4 separate regions of the Homo sapiens genome follow, and regions 1, 3 and 4 are each linked to region 2. The links come from fine-mapping of genetic effects on gene expression. A gene starts in region 2. Each other region holds a variant in brackets. All regions are shown on one strand. Distances are between the middles of the regions. Region 1 has its middle 35 kb from the start of PELI2. Region 2 holds the start of PELI2 (pellino E3 ubiquitin protein ligase family member 2). Region 3 overlaps LINC02284 (long intergenic non-protein coding RNA 2284). Region 4 overlaps PELI2 (pellino E3 ubiquitin protein ligase family member 2).

Region 1 (4,164 bases), 34 kb after region 2:
ATGGAGTAACTAAGGAAGTGAGGGATCTTGTCATAAGAATACCCGGCAGAGGGAGCAATCCAGAGGGACCAGCAAGTGCAAAGACGCTGGGGCAGAAGCACACCTCAGTTGTTTGAAGAACAGGAAAGAGGCCAGTGTGGTTACATTGGCATAATTGAGGGGAAAGCAGTAGGAAACGGGGTCAAGGGATAAGAGGGCATCATCATGTAGACTTGACTTTTATTCTGGATGAGATGGGAATCCTTGGAAGGTTTTGAGCAGAGGAGTCTCATGATTGAACTTTATGTTTTTTAACAGAATAGCCCTGGCTGCTAGGTTGAGAAGAAACCTCAGAGGGCAAGGATAGAAGCAGAGAGACTAGAGACTGCCACAGCAGTGAGAGATGATGAAGAGTTGAAACAGAATGGTAGCAAGAGGGTGATGTGAAGAATGTGAAGGACATATATATATATATTTTATATACTTTATTTATAATTTATAAATATATATAATTTATATATTATATAATATATAATTTAAAAATATATATATAATTTATTATATATATAAAAAAACTAGTAACTAAGATGGAGTAACTAAGGAAGTGAGGGATCTTGCCATAAGAATACCTGGCAGAGGAGCAATCCAGAGGGAACAGCAAGTGCAAAGACCCTGGTGTCTCTTCCCCTAGGAATGACAGATAGATAGATAGATAGATAGATAGATAGATAGATAGATATAGATATATATATATATATGATCCAACAGTATTTGCCTACAGATCATATATAGGGAGTGTGAGAGAGGAAAGAGTCAAGGATGCCCTCAGGATCTTTGGGCTGAAACAACTGGAAGAATGGAGTAGCCAACAACCGGAGACTGCAGGCAAAGATAGTTTCAAGAAGAATGCGAGGATCTCGGTTTCAGACATGTTAAGTTTGAGACATCAATTAGATATCCAATTGGAGAGTCAAGTGGGTAGATGGTTGTGAGTTTAATGGAGAGGTCCAGAGTGAAGATACAATTTTGGGAGTCATCAGCACAGAGGTGGTGTTAAAGTTGTAAGACTGGAAATGTTTGCCAAGACAGTAAATGCAATTACAAAAGCGAAGTATCAAGAGATGAGCCCTGGGCAAGTCCAACATTTAGAGTTTGGAGGGATGAGGAAGACACTGCCAGTGAGGTTGGGGGAACACCGGGAGAAACTGGGAGGCAAGAGAGAAAAGTGTTTCAAGGCATAAAGCATCCAACTTTGCCAAATGCTGCCCATAGGTCAATTAAGAGGAGGTCTGAGAAGTTACATTAGAGTTAGCAGTGTTCTTGACCATTGGTGACCTTGAGTAGTGTGAGTGGAGAGGTGGGGGTCCCAAACTGGGTTCACGAGAGAGAGAAAGAGAGAGAAGCAACTGGAGGTTGCAAGAACAGATGTTTCCTTCAAGGGGTTTTCTTCTTAAAGACAGGAGGAAATGGGATATAACTGGAAGAGGAAGTAGGGAGAGAAGAGAATTATTTTTAGGAAAGAACAGCATGTTTATAAGTTGATAGGACTGCCACTGTAGAGAAGAACTTGAAGGTGCAGGGTTGGGGATGGAGGCGGCAGGGAATTGCTGGAGCAAATGTCCTTGGGTACAATGGACAGTGGAACCAGCACCCAGGTGGAGACTTTGGCTGAGGGCAGGAGCAAGGCTAGGTCATCACAGTGATAGGGGAAGGTAGAGGCTAGGCCAGCAGCAGGTAGGCTGGCAGATGCAAGGTAGAAACCTCATGACAGTTCTTCTCTCATCACTTCCATTTTCTTGCTGAAGTAGTGTGCTTTTCATG[C/T]AAAGAGGTTGCTTTCAACATTTTTACAAAGCTAAGGAATGTCAATGTTGAGAATTTTGTGACTAGGAAACCTAATGAGTTGTGCAGCTATTGTTAGTTTTGTGCCTAACTTATCATACTTTTCAGAATAGATGGCTCTGCTATCCTAGGACTGGGCTTGTCTTTCTAGAAACAAATTCCTGACACCCAGATTAGACAGTTCTGAGGAAGTCTCACATACCCAATTCTGTCATTCCTAGGGGAAGAGACATAAACCTTCCATTATCTTGATTTCGTTGAGTGCCTGCCTTTTTTCTCTTTCTCAAGGTTCCCCCTCCCTGTCATATCTCTTTTCAGACATTCAGGAGAGCATGCTCTGGAAGCAGTCGCAGCAAACAGTAGACCGAAGGAAACCCCAGGGAAACTTCAGGGAGGTCCTGTATCTTACTGGTTTTTCCAGATTTACATTGAGATTGTCCCTGATAATTCCTTTCTCTACTTTCATGACTTTAAAAAACTCATCCTTAAATCTTTAAGAGAGATGTTTATAGAATCATGATGGATATAACAAATACACTCTTTTCCACAATTTAGAATTTGAAATTTTCGAAGTGTTCAGGCAGGTAGGGAAAGAAGAAGGGGAATTTATTATGTCATCCAATTCTGACAGTTCTATGAGGTAGGTATGATTATCTAGATCTTATAGATCAGATTCAGAGAGATTAAGTAACTTGCCCATATAGTAAGTAGGGGTCCCAGACTTGAACTCTGGACTCTCAGAGCCCAGCACTGTGCTATTTTCATTGTACTTTGCTCTATGATCATTTAGGAAAGGCAAATACTACGTCGGTAATTTATGAAGGAATTTCCTGCCCTGTCCATAGCCTAGCTCTCTAGATAACTCAGAAACTCCTACCTCAGACCCTTGATCTGTGGGGTTGTTCTGCAAAGAACCTTTTGATATACCATGGGCATTCCAGATCCAGAACACTGCTTTCTGCCAAGGTGACTTTTAATTTATCAGAGCTCTCTTTGGTATACACATGTCCAAACCATTGGTCTACTATTTTATTGCAAAAATCAGTAAGGAAGGAAGTTTAGGCACACAACTAGAGTGTGAATGTGAAGCTGCTTTTTTTTTTTTTTTTTTTTTTTTTTTTGGTCTTTGGGATTGCTTGCTTTCAAAACAAGCTTCCATTTCCCCCCACCTCCATAGCAGCATTGTTTTCTTGCTCTTCATTCTGTGTCTCAAATATACTTCTTAGGCATTCCAAGTGGACATTTACGACTTTTTACAGATCAGCTTTTCCAAGTACATGATCTAAAGTGGCACTCCTCTACTTTCAGAGCTCCTAGCTCCTTTCATTAGCAATCTTTAGTGAGAAGAGGGAGGCCATCCTAGGTAAACTTCCTCAACTCCTCTACCCTTTGCATCAGATTTGCTTCATGTTTATTCCACCCTCCTTCCTCTGATCTCAGAGGCAGGAAGCTGTGTCCCTTATCTTTCCAAGATAACCTTTCTGTGTGTGTCCACGATGCCACTTCCTCCCATGTCTTTAATGGGAACCTCTTCTCACATGTTCAAGCTCATATTTAGCCTCATGCCTCAAATTTTAAAAAATGCCTGCTATCCATTAAGCCACTGCTGCATTTCTTAAGTTTCACTGTGTCAAACTTTTTGGACGAGATGCTAAAACTCAATACCTTTATGTCTTTTTATGGCAATCTAGCCTAATTATTCTATTGAAATCTCTCACTTTGGATGCCTTCCTTTGGGAATTTTTCATCCCTTAGCCTCCCTGTCACTGAACCCTTAGTTCTCTTCCAATCTTTGATGGTTTTCTCTAAGCACCTGCATTGAACTTTTCCTCTTCTCTTCCTCGAATCTAGTCAGTCTCCCAGCTTCTGCCTCTCCCTTTTCCTTTCCCCACTGTGTTCCTCTCTTTCTCCCATTTTTCTTTGCACTAATAGTTAATATTATAGTTAATTAAGCTGAAATTTCACAGGCTGCTCTCCTAATGTGATCATTTAAATCCAGGCCAGATGCTAACCAAACCCTACTTAAACAAGGCCTTCTCCACTCTTAAGATTCACCCTAGAATGTTCCATGGACAGTTTTAGAATATTTATTTCTGAAAACTGACATACAAACATTTTCCACAACAGGAAAGAAAGCATCAGCTTTCTATTTGCAGCACAAGAAAACACCACTGGGATGAAGCCTCAAAAACACATTTGGGTGACGGCAGATCACGAGACACTTGGAGTCAAGATATCAGGTTTCAATCAAAAATATATAGACTGGATATGAATAAACTCCCCTGAAATCTCACTCTCTTCCACTGACTGGGGTTTCAGATGGGGAGATCAGTAACACTTGCAGAT
Region 2 (4,164 bases):
TAGGTGAGAAAAACACTTATCTGCAAACAGCTTCAAAATAGGTAATGAGATTTCCAATACCACCCCCACTTAATGCACTAGCAACAAAGTCAGGAAGACTGGGAAGCTTTGAGTTGTGCGGTGTCTGGAAGCTTCCCTCAAAAACTCCTCTCTTTAAATTATTTTTAAGTCAGCACTTACTTCAAGGCACTCACTTATCAAAACACGTTTTGCAAAGTTCCCTGAGTCTTCCCACAGCCATGACTCCTCATATGTGTGCTAAGCCTACCTATCAGCGCCGAGGATGTTCTGAATACAGGTCTTTCAACGCAGAAGGACAAAAGCGCGGGTTCCCAGAGCGACACATCCAAAGGAAAAAATAATCCTTTCTTCAACACTAAACCCAAGTTGTTCCTTCCCCCCAGTTTCCTGCACTTCCCCCTTCCCCCTCCCCTTTCACTGCCCACTATATCCAGTTTTAAGCCCGCAAAGCCTCTCTCCTGGCTTATTAAGGGTAAACAATAGAAATGTCACAAGGAAACTCAGGAAGTAGATGAAGTCTCTAATTGCTGCCGTTTAACGATTGTACATAATTACTATCTTCAAGATGCGGCTTTCACCAGCAGAGAGGGAGCCGAGGCGGGCGAGGCTGGCGAGCTCCCCGCAGCCGGGAGGGCATCAGCGAGGCCGGGACCGGGGGGATACGGCCCGCGCCCCGGTGCCAGGCCCCGAGCAGCCGCATCCTGTCCCTCCCCTCCAGAGCACTCCAAGCGGGGAGAAGCGGAGGGCCGGCCGGCCCGGGTCACACACAGTTCACTGCTCTCGGGCTGCGGCGGCCCGCGGCGGTCATCGGAACAATTTGCAAAGCGCAGCCGGGGATCCCACAGCCCGCGGCGGCCCAAGCTCACGGCGCCGCGCTCGGAGTTCGGGGGCGCGGGTACCACGGTCCGCGAGGGAGGTGGGAAGACGGGGCTCCGCGCCGGCCGGCCTCTCAGCTTCGGGAAGCGACCCCGCGAAGCGCCCGCGACCGCGGCGCCTCACATGGAGTCCCTGCCCGCCCTCCCCGGCCCGGACGCGGCGCGCGGGAAGTGGAGCCCCTGCCCCCGCCCCCACGATACGGCCGCGGACCCGGTGCCCGGCGCTGCCCCCGCTGGGTCGCCCGAGTTCTGGCCACTTCCTCCGCCGCGTCCTCCGCGCGGACAGCGCAGCCCGGCGTCCGCCGCAGCACCCCGAGCGCGCGCCGATGGGGCGCATCCCGCCCCCGCGCCGCCGTCCGGGCCCTGAGAGCCTCTCCTGCCGCCCCGAGCGCCCCGGCGGTCCCCAAAGAGCACCGAGCCACCCCGCCAGCCCCGCTCCAGGATGCGGGCGCTCCCCGCCCGCGCCGCTGCCCGGGACCAGGGACCCCAGGACTCACCCGAGCACCACCAGCTCCCCGTATTTCACTGGCTCCTTATTGGGGGCGCAGTGTTCCTCCTGGCCAGGGGAAAACATGGAGCCCCGCTCGGCCGCCGACGCCGCCGCCGACGCCGCCGCCTCCGCCGCGATCCCCGCCGAGTCCGCGCCGCCGCTACAATCCCATCCCGAGAACGGGGTGAGCGCGCCGGGGAAGGGCACGGCGGCGAAGGGGGCGCGGGGCGGCCAGTCCCGCTGCTGCTCCGTCGTGGCTGCGCGGCTGCTCCGCCTGACTCCCCGGAGCTCCGCGCGCCGCGGCCGCCCCGAGTCAGAGCCGGCAACAAATGGGACCCGGCAGCAGGGGGACCTGCCTGCGCTGAGCGCCGCCGCCGAAGCCCCGCGGGAGGGAGGGAAGGAGGAGGGAGCGGGCGCACGAGAGGCTGGGGCCGCGCGGGGGAGGCGGGGGCCAGCGCGCGGGCAGGTGGGAGCCGCCCCGCCCCACGCAGAGCCAGGCGCCCGCCCCCGGCCCGCGGGGCGCCCCCTCCCCCGGCGCGTGGGGCCGTCCGCGCCCACTCCCCGCCCCCCTCGGCCCGGCGGAGGCTCGGCCCCTGTGTTATGTAAACATAGAGTAAAAGGGAAAGGAAGTTCTTAAAGGAGCAGCTCTGTTTTTTTTCCTCACTTCCTTCCCCAAACTTAGAGCGCGGGGTCCTCAGCCCTCGCCGCCTGGTTCTTCAGCCGCGAAGGCCCGCGGGAGATCCTGGAAACGAGCGGCCGCGGTTCCCAAGCCCACGTTTTCCTGGCTGGAGTTCGATGGGATTAACTTCCTCTCCGAGTAGAATAGCGCTCTCTCGACGTCACTGTGTCCCGGCTTACAACTAGAGGTGTCGCACACACCCACTTGGGTGCCTCCCCTTCCAAAACCAAGCAGAAAGGCGTCTAGAAAATTAGAAGGTTTTGCCAGTTGGTGCTGGCGTAGAGGACGTTTCGAAGGCGCTTGGAGCACCCCACCGTTGCACTGGATGTAGCTACCCCGGCTTGTGGTCAATAGAGCTCCACCTGGCTTTTGGGGGGTGGCGGGGGGATGGGGGAAGAGTTGTTTTTTAATCCATACTTTATCCACTTTTCCTGTGCCTTCTTTCCATCCCCTAATACATACAAGGGGAAATTACCTGGGTGGACTTTTTAGTGAACGTAAATGTTCCTTTATGACCGTGATTTAATCAATGCACTGTTTGCTTTCTATTCTTTTTAAACTAGTTATTGCTATGGCTTTAAAATATCGTAGACTGTATAGTTTTACTGACTGCTGTTTTTCATCATACAGGATTTTATTGTTCTAACATTTATTAAGCACTCATAATGTGCTAGAAACTCTACATATTATTGCGAGTCATTGCCTCTCAACACTGTTAAATATTTAAAGAAATAAATACTGCAGAAGCTACCCTGTGTATAGTGACTGGTTGGCTATGACCCGAAGCAAAGGGCTAGAAAAAATAATAATTGCATCTGTAACCTTCCATTCCGCTGTGCTGCACCCCTTGTGTAACATTCTCTGACAGGTTATTACGGTAGTGACATGATGTTTCTGATAATTTTACTTCAGTTAGGAACTGATTTTTTTAATTGAGGTTTTAGAAATAAATTATTCCAAAGTAACTAAAGCCACACCACTGGTAAGCCAAAAATAAACTTTATTAAACAGTTAACTTATTTCAGCTAACTATAGAAATTCTGTATTTCAAATGAATATTAGTTATTCTGCATATATTACGTATTCTCTATATTTTTTATATGTAATAAAAAATCTGTTACAGTTTTAACCAGCACTCCTTCACTAAAGGGATAAATCATGTCTCCTCCCCAGTGTTGATGTAAATTTCTTTCAAATTTCTGCTGGATTAATGTTGTCTTCATGTACTCTGTGCATCTACTTACCACATAGATTGTATGACTATCAAAGATCTGTCAGAATCATTCTGCAGTTGCGCCGTCACGATTACGATGATGCCTGCCTCTGTCACCCTAGCTTCTCTAGGCCTCCTCTGTTGCTGCTTCTGCTCTCTAGGCTACCATTACCTCCTTCCTTCTCTCTTGGCCTGCTGTGCCTGTGTGCGTTGCATTGCATTATACTGTTCTGGCTGCATTTCCTCCTTGCTGTGCTTCGCATCTGCTCTTAGGAAGATAGAAAGAAATATGTATTAACCTCCTACTAAGTTCCCAGCACTAGGCTGAGAGTTTCCCATAGGATATCCCAATCTTCCAAGGCCCCCCCGTCTAGCTATCTGCCTGTGGCACCCCTGACTTCCAGAGGGACATGTCTCTCTACTCTCCCAACATGTCTTTGAGAATGTTTATAGTACTTAATCAGGTCTGTCTTTATCAGACTGACTTACAGGAAGTGTTGTTGTGAATGAGTTTTTGTGTCAATGGAGGCTTTTTATCCTAGGCAGCTCAAGGCTAGATCAGCTCTGTGAATCACTCTGAGCCCTGAAAGCTTCTGACTGGTAAGAGCAATTCTATTGATCACAGTCAAGAATACATACAGGGACCAGGCATGGAAATCCAAATGAGCAAATGGGCTGAGTGAGGACTGTGGCACATTGGTAGGGTCTGTGCCGTCTACAGGGCTTATCTGTCACTCATCTCTAGCTGATTGTTGCCATGTGACAATGACAGTTCACTCTTGCTAGATGTAATTTTTCTAAAAGCCTCAAATCCTGATTACACCAAACCTCTCAATTTTTAACTGTTGGCAACTCATTCACACTTTCAATTTTCTTGAAACACAGC
Region 3 (4,164 bases), 210 kb before region 2:
TTGGGGAAATGCTCTGCTATTACCATCTTGAAATGCTTAATAATTTTATCTTAGAACTTCTGGTTTGCAAGTAAAGTCTGCTGGGACAACACAGCACACAGTGAGCAGGTAAGATAAACATAATATGCACATCTGCTATCTTAGCCATCCCATTTGCTACCTCCGTAACATACTTACCTTCTACTTGCTTTTACTCTTGCTGGACTCCCATCACTGTGGCTTCACTGGAATTCGATGATCATGTTCTGTATCAACATGTCTGCAATTGAGTAGGTAGGGGTACTGACAGCCCCGGGTGGCTATACTTTCCATTCCAGTCATAACTTGCTTGGACACAGAAAGAAGGCAGTGGTATTCTAAGAAACACAAATGATCAAGGAAGCTTTTCACAGCCTTTCTTACTCATGTTACACCTTTGTGTTAGTCAAACACTTATTCTGAAAATGATGGAAGGGAAAGATAAGGCAACCCATGGTTCTTTTATTTCCTTAGGTCCTTCCTTAATCACAATGAGTAGCAATGTAGAGAGTGTTAGCAGAATGTGCACATATCAAGAAATGAAATAAAAATTGTTGAATTAGTTGTGTGCAGTATTTCCCTGCTTGGTAAGAATGAAATACTGTGCATTTATGAGCTACAAACTATGAATTACTTTATTTCACAGATTCACATAGGAATTAAGTTCCCTTATATATGCCAACCACAACCCTGGCTCCAAGTGTGGGAATGATAGCACCAGGGGTAATTTCATCCCACTTGCTGGTGATTGGTCCAGGACAGGCATGCCACTCAATCAGACCAATGAGAAGCTGCTAGGGACTCCTGAGAAAGTTCTGACTTCTGCTTCCAGAACCGACTCTCTTTATTCCATCTTTCTACAAAGTGAGGATGAAGTCAACATGCAGAGGAGGGTAGAGTCACAAATTCATTGACAAAAAAAAACAACTTTTTAAAAGAATTTGCACGGCTGGGTGCAGTGGCTCACGCCTGTAATCCCAGCACTTTGGGAGGCCGAGACGTGTGGATCACAAGGTCAGGAGATCGAGACCATCCTGGCTATCACGGTGAAACCCCGTCTCTACTAAAAATACAAAAAATTAGCTGGGCTTGGTGGCGGGCGCCTGTAGTCCCAGCTACTCGGGAGGCTGAGGCAGGAGAATGGCGTGAACCCGGGAGGCGGAGCTTGCAGTGAGCGGAGATGGTGCCACTGCACTCCAGCCTGGGCAACAGAGTGAGATTCCGTCTCAAAGAAAAATAAAAATTAAAAAAAAAAAAGAATTTGCCGAAAAATAGAACTAAAGCTTCCAGTCTAAGCAACCTAAACACTGGTCTCCTGCTGTGACTTCCAGGAATGCGAACCAACTATTCCATTGTTACTAAATCCAGTTTATGATGGATTTTCTGTAACTTGATGCTGAAAGCACATTGATAAATGTTTGTTGACTGAGTGGATGAATGTGTACAGCATTATAATCCCTGGCATTGGACTGGCCATGACAAACTTTATGGCTCTTAAAGGAGGAGTCAATCTGACAGCTGAAGAACAAGGAAGAAGGCAGTGCAGGAAGGAAGGGGCACCCTGGTGTGCGCAGGGGTGAGAGGCTGACAAACATTAGGGGTCAGAAAGGAACATGGTCTGGAGATGCAAATGATTCATGCAGGGAGAGCAGGGACCATGGAGTGGCTGCCCTGGATTTTCAAGGGTCTGGGATTTTCTCAAGGTCGCCGGCGTGGTTAGTTGTAGGGGAACCCTATGCTATGTGTAGAAGTACTTGGAGCGGGCCGGGCGCGCTGGCTCACGCCTGTAATCCCAGCATTTTGGGAGGCTGAGGCAGGCTGATCACGCAGTCAGGAGATCGAGATCATCCTGGC[T/C]AACACGGTGAAACCCCGTCTCTACTAAAAATACAAAAAAATTAGCAGGGCATTGTGGCGGGCGCCTCTAGTCCCAGCTACTCGGGAGGCTGAGGCAGGAGAATGGCGTGAACCAGGGAGGTGGAGTTTGCAGTGAGCTGAGATCGCGCCACTGCACTCCAGCCTGGGCGACAGAGCGAGACTCCGTCTCAAAAAAAAAAAAAAAAAAAAAAAAAAAGGGCTTGGAGTAGTGAAGAGATCTGCAGCCGCACAGCCATGATAAGATCTTAGGAACTACCTCCTTATTTATATAAAGGTGCTTTACTGAAATATTAATAGCTCAGTTTGGGTTTGAAACCGAGCTGTGCCTCTCACTAATGGTGTAACCTAAGCAAGTTACTTTATCGTTCTGTGTCTTGGTTCCCTCAAAAGGAAAATGAAGAAGATATGAGCAGTACTTACCACCTCCTTTTCCATGAGGATAGTGAGGTCATCCAGCGTTTGGCACCTGGCAGGAGTTGCGTGGATGTTGGTTATTGTTATGTCTTTTGATTGCCTTACATGGTTCCTTGCAGGGGGAGAATTTTTTTTTTTTTTTTTTTTTTTTTTTTTTTTTTTTTTGGGAGTCCACCATTCCTACACCCTTCCCTCATCTTTTAATGTCTGGAGACTGCTGTCTGCAATTGTAAACCACTCTTTCACCTTCCTGATGCCCACATTACATGTAGCTTATTTTTGCCTTACTGATATTCAAGCTGAAGGAGGATGATGAAGAAGCTCTTGGGACCAAATTCAACACCAGCCAGTCAGCCTCCCTGACTATCCCCAACAGAGACTGGAGTGGCTCGATTCTACAGCTTAGAGTTTGTAGAGGAAAAGCTAAAATCCACACAAGAAATATTTCTGTGGCCGATTTCAGCTGATTTATAAGATTTTTTTCAAGTAAATAAAGCATATTTTCACCATTTTCAACATATCGTAGTATACTGTCCATCTTGGTGATCTGTTTCCCCAGGCCATATTTGGCAACATTTGGTATTACCTCCCACAGACTCTTGCACTTCCTTGGCCACAGGAATCAGATACGACCCTGTTAGGGACAGCACGTTTTCTTTAGTTTATTCATTCATATTCATTTAATGCTTATTGCATGCCAAGTACCATTTGGTGAGCTGCCTTACACAGTTATCTGCATTTTATATATTATGTGTGATATAACGGATGATCTTACACATATGTACTTCTGCATTTCAAATAGCTCAAAGTAAACTACAGAGGGAATATGCAACTTAAACCACAAACTACTCTTTAAAAACTTTGCTTCAAAACTCCAACCAAGAATTGGATAGTTTGTAATTGCACTGATTTCTGGCTCCTGGATTAGTCTAATCTTTCTGAAGTGGATATAGAAATATAATTCCATTCAGCACATCGTTATCACCAATATTTACAGCTTGCCTTTAAAAAGTAAACAAATTGGAGAAACTAGAAAAATTCTCAACCACCAAGTCCCCAAATTTCCATGAATCTTTATATTAATGTGATAAAAGATATAAAAGTTCTTGGCTGTGGTTTAATACTAGAAGATGATTCAGATGTAGAACATCTGACAAAGATTTTAAAAATTCTTTTTTAATGAATATGCAGACGAAGCAAGCTCAGTGTAGAATAACAAAATCACATATGTTGTCAATTATTGGAAACACACAGCACAAACAGCCAATAAACACAGGTAGAACCCCTCAGTGTTGTTGGTAAGATTATGGGGGTGGGGAGAGATTGCTTACAGCTGTTATGTTAATTAAGGAATAAAATAGCTCCATCTGCTACTCCATCTCTCCGTCGAGCTACCCACCCTTTTTGCTGCTTGGTTCTAAGTTGACACTGAACTAGGGAGCTGACACCTAAGTCCCTGGCCTCAGTTGGTTTCCATGTTGAATAGAACTTGGAGAGGAAGGTATGGCAGGCTGAGTCACAGACTCTCATCTGAACACATCTCCATCACTCTTAGGCCTGAGATGGGGGTGGGTGGCATGGCAGGCTTGCCTTGTCCCATGCAGATGTAGCTGTGGTTATGGGTAAAAATCTGTGGAGTCATCTTGCTTTATTTTTCCACATAATTTGCATGTAGCACTAACCCCATTAGTACACAGTGTAGCCACCAATAGTCAGCTTTGGTTGCAAGATCCTAGGAGAGTGAAGTTTGGGATTTTTTCCAGTGTCTTTCTTAGGGCCCAAATCAGAGACACTTTCTGCTAACTGCTGAGACATAGATTAGACCACAGACTGAATACATTTTATAAAAAATGGGGG
Region 4 (4,164 bases), 180 kb before region 2:
GGTAGAGTAAGCTATACAGAATACAGCAAGCTATCTGTAAGAGGACTGTTGTCATCGATTTTCACACCATTTAAAATTTACCCAAACAAAACCAAAACCAAAAATGTCTCATCCTAAACAATGATCTCCACTGAAAAATAAAGCTATATTAAAACTGAGAGGCTGAACTTTAAACATATTACATCAAATTAAGCAGCAGCAATCAAGAGTAATATTATCGTATCACTTTAAGGAAAAGCGTATTCAAATAGGTTAGAACGACTGAAAATAGGCAAAATATTTGCCAGTAGGCAAAATACGAAAAAACCAATTCAAGTATGGATATAGTACATTAGAATCATATAAATTACGTATATGTACAAAGGTTAAAAAAAAGTCACCCAAATCTGCAATGGTCAAATTAAGAGAACATTAGTTTAAATAAATACTTATTTTATCTCAGCCAGCTTCTACCAGTCTCATGTCCTAAAGGATCTTTACCTTCTAGGAGCAGTGATACGATCGATGCCAAGCATCCAAGAATTATTAATCAAAATGAAATGAAAGTAACAGGAATGGTGGAGCTCCTATGAAATTCTCATTTAATTATTCCTCAGCAACACTCATTTGCTCTCTCAAAAGCAGGAATTTTGAATTATCTCTGCAGATGTACCACTTGGTGTTGTGTATATCTAATCATCCCACTTAAATTTAGTTTGATTCGCAAACATTTTCAAAACTTACTGGGCTCCTTAAGCTGCAAGGGAAGGTGACAGATGGTGAAAAGGGAGTGCACAACAATGACTATATCATTGTGATTGGTTGGCTTTCTTAACAAAGGAAAAAAAAAAACCCCAAGCTTTATGAAACCTCAAGTGGTTTTAAAAAGTAAAAGCTTATTTTTAATCATTCTTAAATCTTAATTCAGTCAGCAAATAAACATGGTAGTATAGTACCCAGACCATGTCTACTACTGTAATTACCCTCAGTTAATGAGTTTTTAAGAGCTGATGTATTTTAATCAACCAAACAGTTCTGGCCGTGCAAGATGAGTATCGGGGCAAATCATATTAGGCAGAAATAACAAAAGACAGGCTAAAAAGTTATGGAAAATTGTTTGTGAAGTCCCATGTATTTGATGAATGAATATCTAAAGTAAATTCCACTGAAGTTAAAAAAAAAAAAAGCCCACAAGTTATGAATATTCTCTCCCCCAACAAGTCAGAAAAATAAATCAGAAAAAGCCCCAGATTTCAAAACCACCTGTGCCTAAGGCCATCTGTCCACCAGTCACACTGTACAGAGCCGCCCCTCTGCTGTCTGGTCAGGTTTGAGCCACGATCAAGTATTTCTAGACACTGTGCGCCCTTCGCGTAACACCTACACCACACTGCACTGAAGTGAACTTCATGAGCCCACACTTTTGAATAAATTTCTTCTACATCTGTAAAATATGATTTAAAGTCTTGTCCAAGATTACAAAAAAAAAAAAACTTGGTTAAAAACCCAAGGTTAAAAATAGAAGCATAGCATTTTAAATCCAATTATTACAAAGATATTATGGTTTAATCAAGCAGACTTCAATGACGACGCTGCTGTTTTGAGCATGCAACACACCACTGGTATCTGTTACACTCCTGCCATGTTTCATCACCATGTCCCCTCTCTTTATTTCCAGCCCCTGTCACCCTCCTCTGATAAACAGCATTACAAAAAGGTAAAATCTAGAGTTAGTGGCAAAATCTTCACAGTAACCTGTTAATAAAGTCGTAGATGGCTGTCAAGGG[C/T]GTCAGTCAATTGGACCTTGGAAAATTAATTTGATGCAGTTTTGCTCCCCAACCAGCTGTGTAGCACAGAAAGGGCAAGCAGCGTGAAATGCATGAGTTCCATGAGGCAACGGGATCTGAGACCAGTATTTTGCAGACTTCTCCGAGCACACGTGTCCACAGGGAGTGAAAGCATGAGTTGGCGGTCCTGCGTCTACATAAAATCCTGCCTCACAGCCAAGCCAGAGAGGCACATAGGGGCCCACAGTCCTGCACATGGGACACTCCCTCTCGTTGGCCTCCGTGTCACTCCGATGGCCCCAGTTGTGGTACCCGTGCACGTGGCCACAACTGAGATATGCCCAGGGCTGCTTCTCCTCCACCACCTCTTTCCTGTTGATGCTGGGGAAGGCCAGGGTGTTGAGCCCCACAGGACACTGAGGCCGGGCGGCGTTAATCTCCTGCCGGAGGGCTTCTATGTGCTTCTGAGTTGGAGTATGAAAAAGCCCATCTGCTGTTCTCCAGAGGAGAGTGGCCCCACACAGGTCAATGAGGGAGCCGTCCTGCAGGACGTTGGTCTCACTTTCCACCTACAACAAGTTTGAGACACATGCCTTTTAAAAGCAAAATCAAGCAAATCACTCCAAGATTCTTTCCTCTCAGAACAAGCAAAAAAATATTTGAAGATAACACAGGGAAGCAATTTATCCCACAAAAACAGAACTGGGGGAGTAACCTATCCTCCCCGAGCCTCATCTTCCTCATCTGATCACTGGATATGATACATATATGCCGTATGTACAAAGCCCTGAGCACAGTATGTATACCTAGCTTTACATGTTCAATTACTGTAGTGGTTATTTTAATGAACTTCACAAATCTCCTAAGATTTTCTTTTTAACTCCTTAAGTCAGTAACACAATGACTCACTGATCCCATAGGATGAGAGATGTCCTACCAGTCCATCCAGTGGAGACTCATCCTCATCTTGATGACAGCCAATCCAGAAGATCTTGCGGGGGGCCTGCAGTCATTACTGGAGGGTCCAAAGCACTCCTGGTGACCCTTAGCTTCCTCCACCTTGAATCTATCTTTCATCATTCATTTTTAAGGTTTGAAGCTAAACAGTTCAACATGAGCCTTCATTTTTAGAAGGAGGCCTGTGCTATGCACTAAGTGCTTATAAGACTGATTAACAGCTGACAAGCAGCAGCTAGGCGTGGTCAGCAAGAACGTGACCGCTGCCTCCACATGCCAGATGCATGCTAAGCCTTGGAGGTACCAAAGGCCAATAAAACCTCTTCCCCATCCTGCTGAGACTTGCTCTTCAGTAGTGGAAGGCAGACATGCCCAGAGCTCAGAGTGCATGAAGGCCAGTAAAGCACTGTTCAAGGCCACAAATTTATAGCAGCCAGGAGTGTGGACTCTGGGTTTGAACCCTGGCTCTCCCACTTATTAGCTGTATGACGCTGTGCAGATTACTTAAACTCCTCGTGCCTCAGTTTCCCCTTGTTTAAACTTTAGAAAAGGTGGTTGTGTTAGATAAGTAAATGCAAAGAGTTCTTAGAGAACACTGTCTGGTACGCAGTCAACACTCTGTAAATACCTGCTACTATTACTCTGATGATGACAGACGGTCAGAAATGGTTTCTAAAAGGTTTTTCTTTAACAGAGATTTGAGAAAGATGTCAGGCCTCAGTAGGGAGGATAGCAGGAAGGCACAGCAGGGAGAAGGAGGAGAGGCCAAATGGCATATGCACCAAGGGAGCAACAGGGAGTTTGATGAGGCTGTGCAGCCAGGCTGAACAAGGATGGACGCAGTTCAGGGCACTGGGTGGGGGGGGACGAGAGACCCAGGCGGGAGAGGGAGGCTGGCATCCATGCCCAGAGGGAGTTGGTAGGGGGTTTAGGTAACTATAAAAGAACTGATTGACCTTTCAAAAAGGTCACTTCTAGAACTTTGGAGGGTGGGTTGGAGGGGTAAAGATGAGCTGTGAAGGAGGCAACTGGTGCTCTCTCTGGGTAGAGAGGGTGAGTACACCTCAACAAAGACAGTCTCAGTGGCAAGAGACAGAGGCACAGGGACTAGAGAGAAAGAAATTAGACTCGATGGCACTCAGCTCTTGATCTGAGCAAGAGCCTCTTACGTGCCTGGTTGTCTGGGTAGAACAGTGCTTTCCACAGACAGAAACACAGGAGAAATGGCAGATGAGGGAGTAAATCCTGATTTCACCACTTAGTAGCTCTGTGGTCTTGAGTCAACGACTTAACCTCTCTGGGCCTGGCTTCCACATCCATTAAGCTGGAATAATGCCAATACATGTCTTATAGGATTGTTGTGAGAACTAAATAAGTTCAACAGCAAGAGCCAGGCCAGTTCAGTTTTGGGTGTGCTGAATGTGAGGGTGTGCAGAGTATC

The links. PIP is the estimated chance that this variant, and not a neighbour inherited with it, causes the effect. A credible set is the group of variants that fine-mapping cannot tell apart.
Region 1: its variant is the best candidate, but not a certain one, in a credible set for the expression of PELI2 in blood mononuclear cells (TOPMed, PIP 0.51).
Region 3: its variant is the best candidate, but not a certain one, in a credible set for the expression of PELI2 in esophagus muscle (GTEx, PIP 0.62).
Region 4: its variant is the best candidate, but not a certain one, in a credible set for the expression of PELI2 in whole blood (INTERVAL, PIP 0.51).

The regions. Positions count from the first base shown.
Region 1 is chr14:56,081,561-56,085,724 of GRCh38, reverse strand. No RefSeq gene overlaps it. Among named protein-coding and RNA genes, the nearest start is that of PELI2, 35 kb to the left of the region's middle. The variant C/T (reference allele first, on the strand shown) is at 1,801.
Region 2 is chr14:56,115,967-56,120,130 of GRCh38, reverse strand. It overlaps PELI2 (pellino E3 ubiquitin protein ligase family member 2), which reads right to left and starts at 1,720. Exons shown (of 6, transcript NM_021255.3): 1 at 1,394-1,720. The coding sequence starts at 1,470. RefSeq lists silencers at 1,243-1,312, 1,603-1,862, 1,903-1,962 and an enhancer at 2,093-2,332.
Region 3 is chr14:56,324,375-56,328,538 of GRCh38, reverse strand. It overlaps LINC02284 (long intergenic non-protein coding RNA 2284), which reads right to left. Exons shown (of 7, transcript NR_187174.1): 3 at 2,314-2,359; 4 at 178-356. Among named protein-coding and RNA genes, the nearest start is that of LINC02284, 15 kb to the right of the region's middle. The variant T/C (reference allele first, on the strand shown) is at 1,873.
Region 4 is chr14:56,294,771-56,298,934 of GRCh38, reverse strand. PELI2 (pellino E3 ubiquitin protein ligase family member 2) reads right to left here. Exons shown (of 6, transcript NM_021255.3): 6 at 1-2,335. The coding sequence ends at 1,769. Among named protein-coding and RNA genes, the nearest start is that of LINC02284, 14 kb to the left of the region's middle. RefSeq lists an enhancer at 1,587-2,086. The variant C/T (reference allele first, on the strand shown) is at 1,767.